Regions from separate parts of the Homo sapiens genome. Here region 1 is linked to region 2. A link means that fine-mapping ties the variant in region 2 to the expression of a gene that starts in the linked region. Tissue or cell type: T cells. Region 2 holds a variant in brackets; the other region holds the start of a gene. All regions are shown on one strand. Distances are from middle to middle.

Region 1 (2,649 bases), 25 kb before region 2:
TTCTCTGTCACCCAGGCTGGAGTGTGGTGGCACGATCTCAGCTCACTGCAACCACTGCCTCCCGGGTTCAGGCGATTCTCCTGCCTCAGCCTCCCGAGTAGCTGGGGTTACAGGCGCCCACCACCACGCTTGGCTAATTTTTGTGTTTTTAGCAGAGACGGGGGTTTCACCATGTTGGCCAGGCTGGTCTTGAACTCTTGACCTGAAGTGATCCGCCCGCCTCGGCCTCCCAAAGTGCTGGGATGACGCGTGAGCCACCATGCCCGACGTGAAGACAGGAATTTATACCCATGGAGTGCAAGAAGGGACCTTGTAATTTTTAACACGTGACACTTAGTGGCAGATGAGACCTAATGAAGCCAGGCCCACCTTCCACACCAGATTATAAATTCCCCTGGAGCAGAGATTAAATGTTTTATTCACCAACATGCCCAGATCCCTCGCAATGCCTACGCTTGACAAACACCTGTTGTCAACAAGTGCACGAGGCAGCCTAGGAGGAGAATTAGTCTCCACGAGGAGAATTACTCGGGCCTAGCAGCTAGAGTATTTCGAGGTCATCCTAACTGGGTTCCACTTTTGAATTTTTGGTTTTTGGGTTTTTTGTTTTTTTGGAGACAAGATCTCGCTCCACTTGGGAGCAAGGTCTCCCAAAGCTGGAGTGCAGTGGTGGGACCTCAGCCTCCGGGGGTAGCTGGGGCCAAAAGTGCGCGCCACCATGCCCGGTTCTTATTTTGGGTTTCTGGTAGAGCTCTCGCTATTGTGCCCAGGCTGGTCTCGAACTACTGGGTTCAAGCAATCCTCCCACCTCGGCCTCCCAAAGTACTGGGATTACAGGCGCGAGCCACTCGCCCGGCCGGGTTCCACTTCTGAAAGCTTGGGGAGCCGCTGGGCCTTCCAAGAAAAGTGCTCCACCTCCCGACGGCAGGCAGAGCCCCTGGCCCGGCTATCTTTCCAGGGCCGAAAGCTAACAGTCAAGACGCGAAACGAGGAATTCGGGTCAGGGTGGCAAAGCAAAGCGCGATGACAGTGAGGACGACGTCTAGACGCAAACATACATCAAATCGGGCCGAAGCCCGCTGTCGCCGCGCGGGCTGAACCTGGCACCCGGAGCAACGCGCGACCCCGGGACGAGACGCTCTCGTCCGAGCCAAACTACATCCCCCGGCGTGCACTGCAGCGCCCGCCCCTCGCCGGCCGGCGGGGCCCGGGAGGAAGGCGGCCGCGCTGCCAGTCCCGCAGGTCCCCTAGGCCCCTTTCGCTGCGGCCTTTCCCCAACCCGGACCCGGCACTTCTCGGGTTCCGCGACTGCCGATCGCCCCGGCGCGGCACCGCTCCCTCAGGAGTCGCCTAGGCCGCGCAGTCTCCCGACTTCTCGTCAGGCTTTCGCGCCGGCGCTCCAGCAATCACTGGCTGGAGAAGGTGGGCGTTCCGGCTCGAGAGGACCCTGCCGCGGCTCCGGAAGAGCCTCGTCCTGGGCGGCGGTGGTGCGGCGGTCGCCGTTATGGCCACTGGGCTGGGCGGCTGACCGCCGGGCTAGGAAAGGGCCCAGGGCCCCGAATCTCGGTGGCCGCTGCTCCAGCGCGGCCTGCGCCATGGCCTCCTCCGCCGCCTCCTCGGAGCATTTCGAGAAGCTGCACGAGATCTTCCGCGGCCTCCATGAAGACCTACAAGGGGTGCCCGAGCGGCTGCTGGGGACGGCGGGGACCGGTGAGGCGGGGGTGGGCCACGCCGTGGGGAGCGCAGCCCTGCGCGCTTTGGAAGGAAGATTCTCCCACCTTCCTCCCAGACCCGGGCCCGCGTCTCCTCCCTCCGCGTCCTCAGACACGCCCCCTAGGGCTGGCTTGTCCCAGCCCCAGGTCTCCCTGCTGCCACTGAGAGTAAATTGGACCTCGGGATTCAGTTCCCTGGGATCCTTCTATGGCCTTCCACATTTTCTCATCTTTTTTCACTGTGGCAAATAGAGCAGAGGGGCTTTTGCATCTGCGGTCCTGTAATGTAGAGTGGGTTTCTTTCATAGCTGTTTTTGTTTGTTTTATGCATTTAAAAGCACTAGTCTCAAGACAGGTCTAGTTTTCACCAGACTGACAGAGGATCCGTAGCACAGAAAAAGGGTTAAAAACCCAAAGGAGTCATAATTTGGGGGTGTTGGTAAATACCAGTTATTGGAGGGTAGAGAGCTGGCCTTTAAAACCTGATTGTGGCATTTAGATGTGGTCTTGTTTTGAACGTTTTTACAGCTGAGACTGTTTACTACCCCTTAATTTCATGATTCAGGTTGCTACAAGTTCTGTCTGGAGGAGCTAGAGTTTTCCGGCCCTAAATCCATAGGAAAAGCTGCTATAGTTCTTGGCCTCCGGATATATAGAATTTGATGGCAAGGACAAAACTTTGTTTTATTGCTTTTATTTAAGAGTCAGAGCTTGGGTGTTTGCTCAACGAATTACTCAAGGTCATAGGAATTGAATGACTGGTGAGAATGAAATTCATGTATTTAATATATATTTATTGTGAGGCTGCTGTGTGCTAGGTGCTGGTGAATTGTGAGGCACCGTTCTAGGTGCTGGTGAATATTGCAAATTACAGTGAAAAAGATACGAACATCCCCATTCTAGTGGGTAGGTGATAAACAATATATAACTATTAAGA
Region 2 (2,500 bases):
ACTACAAATTCTTTCGCAGCCATTGAACTTCTATAGGGAAGGGTTTGTGGACCAGAACTTTGACCTTGTGAATGCATGATGTTAGGGATGTGGATAGAATAAGCATATTGCTGCTGTGGGCTGACAGTTCAAGGATGCACTGTATAGCCAGGCTGTGGGAGGAGGGAGGAAAGATGAAAAACCACTTAAATGTGAAGGAACAACAGCAACAAGACCAGTATGATATACCAAGGTAATAAATGCTGTTTATGACTTCTTTAAATTTACATAGTACTGTAGCATATTAATACCCTGTGAACTGCAAAAAACCAAATACATTTACAGTAGTATTGGTCACCAAAATAGAGGGGAAACTTTACAATTGTGAGAATGTGTAAATGTTCTCATTAAGGCAGTATTGACCCAGACAACCATTTAGTATTCATCTATCCCCTCAATGCCTCATAATTCTGGAATGCCTGTTGTGAAACATGTCAGTGCACAGTGTCTCCTAAATTCTCACACGTGCTTGATTTTCTGATTCATCTGGTGAACTGGGAGTAGGAAGTTGGTCATAGACAATATGCCCTCCTTCTCTTGTCTGACCAAAGCTTGAAGCAATCACATCTACTGCCAGGTTAGCTGTAGTCTTCGCCTCTTCCTCTGAGGTGGCCAACTGAGGATTGACTTCAACAAGATCCAGTGCTGATAGCAACCCTGGAAGAACAAAGTGTGACAAAACCTCAGGTTCCCTTGCTGCTACTCTCAGTGAGGGTCATCCCACTGGGACAGGGAGAACAAGCCAAAGTAAAAACAAGAGTCCATTTTATAGTAGAAAATACCTATTTTTAGGAAGCCCCTTGCACCTCATCCTCTTGGCCATGAATTTAAGTTAAAACACTGTTGTGCTATAGTAGATTAAAAGAAACCTTTTAAGATAATGAAATAAACCATCCCTGTTCAACTAACATAACAGGCATAATTGTCAGGCGTTCTGGAAAAGGAAAAGGCTTGGTGTTGGGTGGGGGAGGTTTTCATCCTGCTTGTTGGCAAAATGTATGCCACCTCCAGTATGACTAGGAACCTTCCAGATGCCTGCCTGGAAATGAATCAAGTATGAAGGCAGAGGAAATCTGCCACTT[G/T]CACTAGCCAAACTGCATTCCCACTTTTGAACTCTAATGTGTTATCTGTATCTGTTAGAGCACCACACCATATGCCCTGAAATGTAGTTATTACTGCAAACTTCATTCTCACCCCTGCAGGCCTGAGCTCTGGAGGCAGGTTCCACATCTAACAACATCTTTTTGTCTCCCAGCAGACTGACCCAGTGTCTTGTACTTGATCAAGAGAAAATTCAGCCATATGTTAATTATTTTATCTGGACTTCAGTTACCTTCTGTTAAGGTTTGAGAACTTGTGTCAAAGTTCTCGGTAGTGTTCCTTTGGCCTGGAGCAAGTGGAAGGGAAGCTTAAACCAGAAGAACCTATCCAGACCTGCTACTATGCTCACCCCTCTAAATGCCTCACTTCTCTATAGAATTTAACTTTTTAGTTGGTTATTCTGGATGAAGGGTGATCTGAACAAGCTAGTATTCAGGAATACAAGTATCTAAGAATATTTAGGGTGGCCATAAAGTCTGGAAACACAGGCAAATGTACCTAATGGTTTATTGATATTACACTATAGTACATGATGTGCTGAATGCCATCATGTCCGTTCAGCATCTTCCCTTATTAGCAATGCATAGTTGAGTGTACAGTGCCAAACTGCAACCAACAGGTGTATTACTGTAGCATTTCCATCATTTCCTGCACATGGACCTGTGTTCCTGATTTGTCTCTGATTTCCACTGACTAAACCTGCACCTTTAGCATATCCCAGAAGTGGTCATCAAAGTTTGCACTATTAGAAATATATACATGACTTATGTTTCCAGACTATTGCCACCCTATAAATTAAGCAAACTGCTTTATGTATCTAGTTGACAGCATTATAACAGTGCAGTGGCACAATCATGGCTCACTGCAGCCTCAACCTCCCAAGTAGTTGGGACACCTGGCTAATTATTTTTTGTAGAAACGGGGTCACACTATGTTGCCCACGCTGGTCTTGAACCCCTGGGGTCAAGTAATCCTCTTGCCTTGGCCTCCCAGAGTACTGGGATTATAGGTATGAACCACTGTGCCTAGCCCCATGAGTGTCTTTTGGAGTAAAATATTGTAGCATAGGAACAAAGAGACAAGCCATGCCATATATAAGTGCTAGAGGTTATTAACCCCTGCTCTAAGTGGTGTTTTTAGGAAGCAAAGCAGAGAATTGAACCCCCAAGTTCTCTGGCCAATAACCTAAGGACCACTGGCAACATCTAAGATTGCAGATCTGAGAATTAGACCAGTACTGCCTGCCTTTTTGTACTGCCTAAGGTTCTGGCAGGCTGTGGCGCTAAGGAGACCATTTCTCAATGTGAGTTTCTATCCCAGCTAGTCAAGGGTTCTCTATAGCCCTGAACCTTTCAATCTG

The links. PIP is the estimated chance that this variant, and not a neighbour inherited with it, causes the effect.
Region 1: VTI1B starts here. The variant in region 2 is fine-mapped to the expression of VTI1B in T cells (TOPMed, PIP above 0.99). The same link has a PIP of 0.9 or more in aorta, blood mononuclear cells and lymphoblastoid cells.

What each region holds. Positions count from the first base shown.
Region 1 is chr14:67,673,436-67,676,084 of GRCh38, reverse strand. It overlaps VTI1B (vesicle transport through interaction with t-SNAREs 1B), which reads left to right and starts at 1,453. Exons shown (of 6, transcript NM_006370.3): 1 at 1,453-1,710. The coding sequence starts at 1,596. It also overlaps a transcript of GPHN not described here. RefSeq lists silencers at 1,129-1,568, 1,669-1,778.
Region 2 is chr14:67,648,911-67,651,410 of GRCh38, reverse strand. ARG2 (arginase 2) reads right to left here. Exons shown (of 8, transcript NM_001172.4): 8 at 1-696. The coding sequence ends at 491. VTI1B (vesicle transport through interaction with t-SNAREs 1B) reads left to right here. Exons shown (of 6, transcript NM_006370.3): 6 at 1-2,500. The coding sequence ends at 26. It also overlaps a transcript of GPHN not described here. Among named protein-coding and RNA genes, the nearest start is that of VTI1B, 24 kb to the left of the region's middle. The variant G/T (reference allele first, on the strand shown) is at 1,122.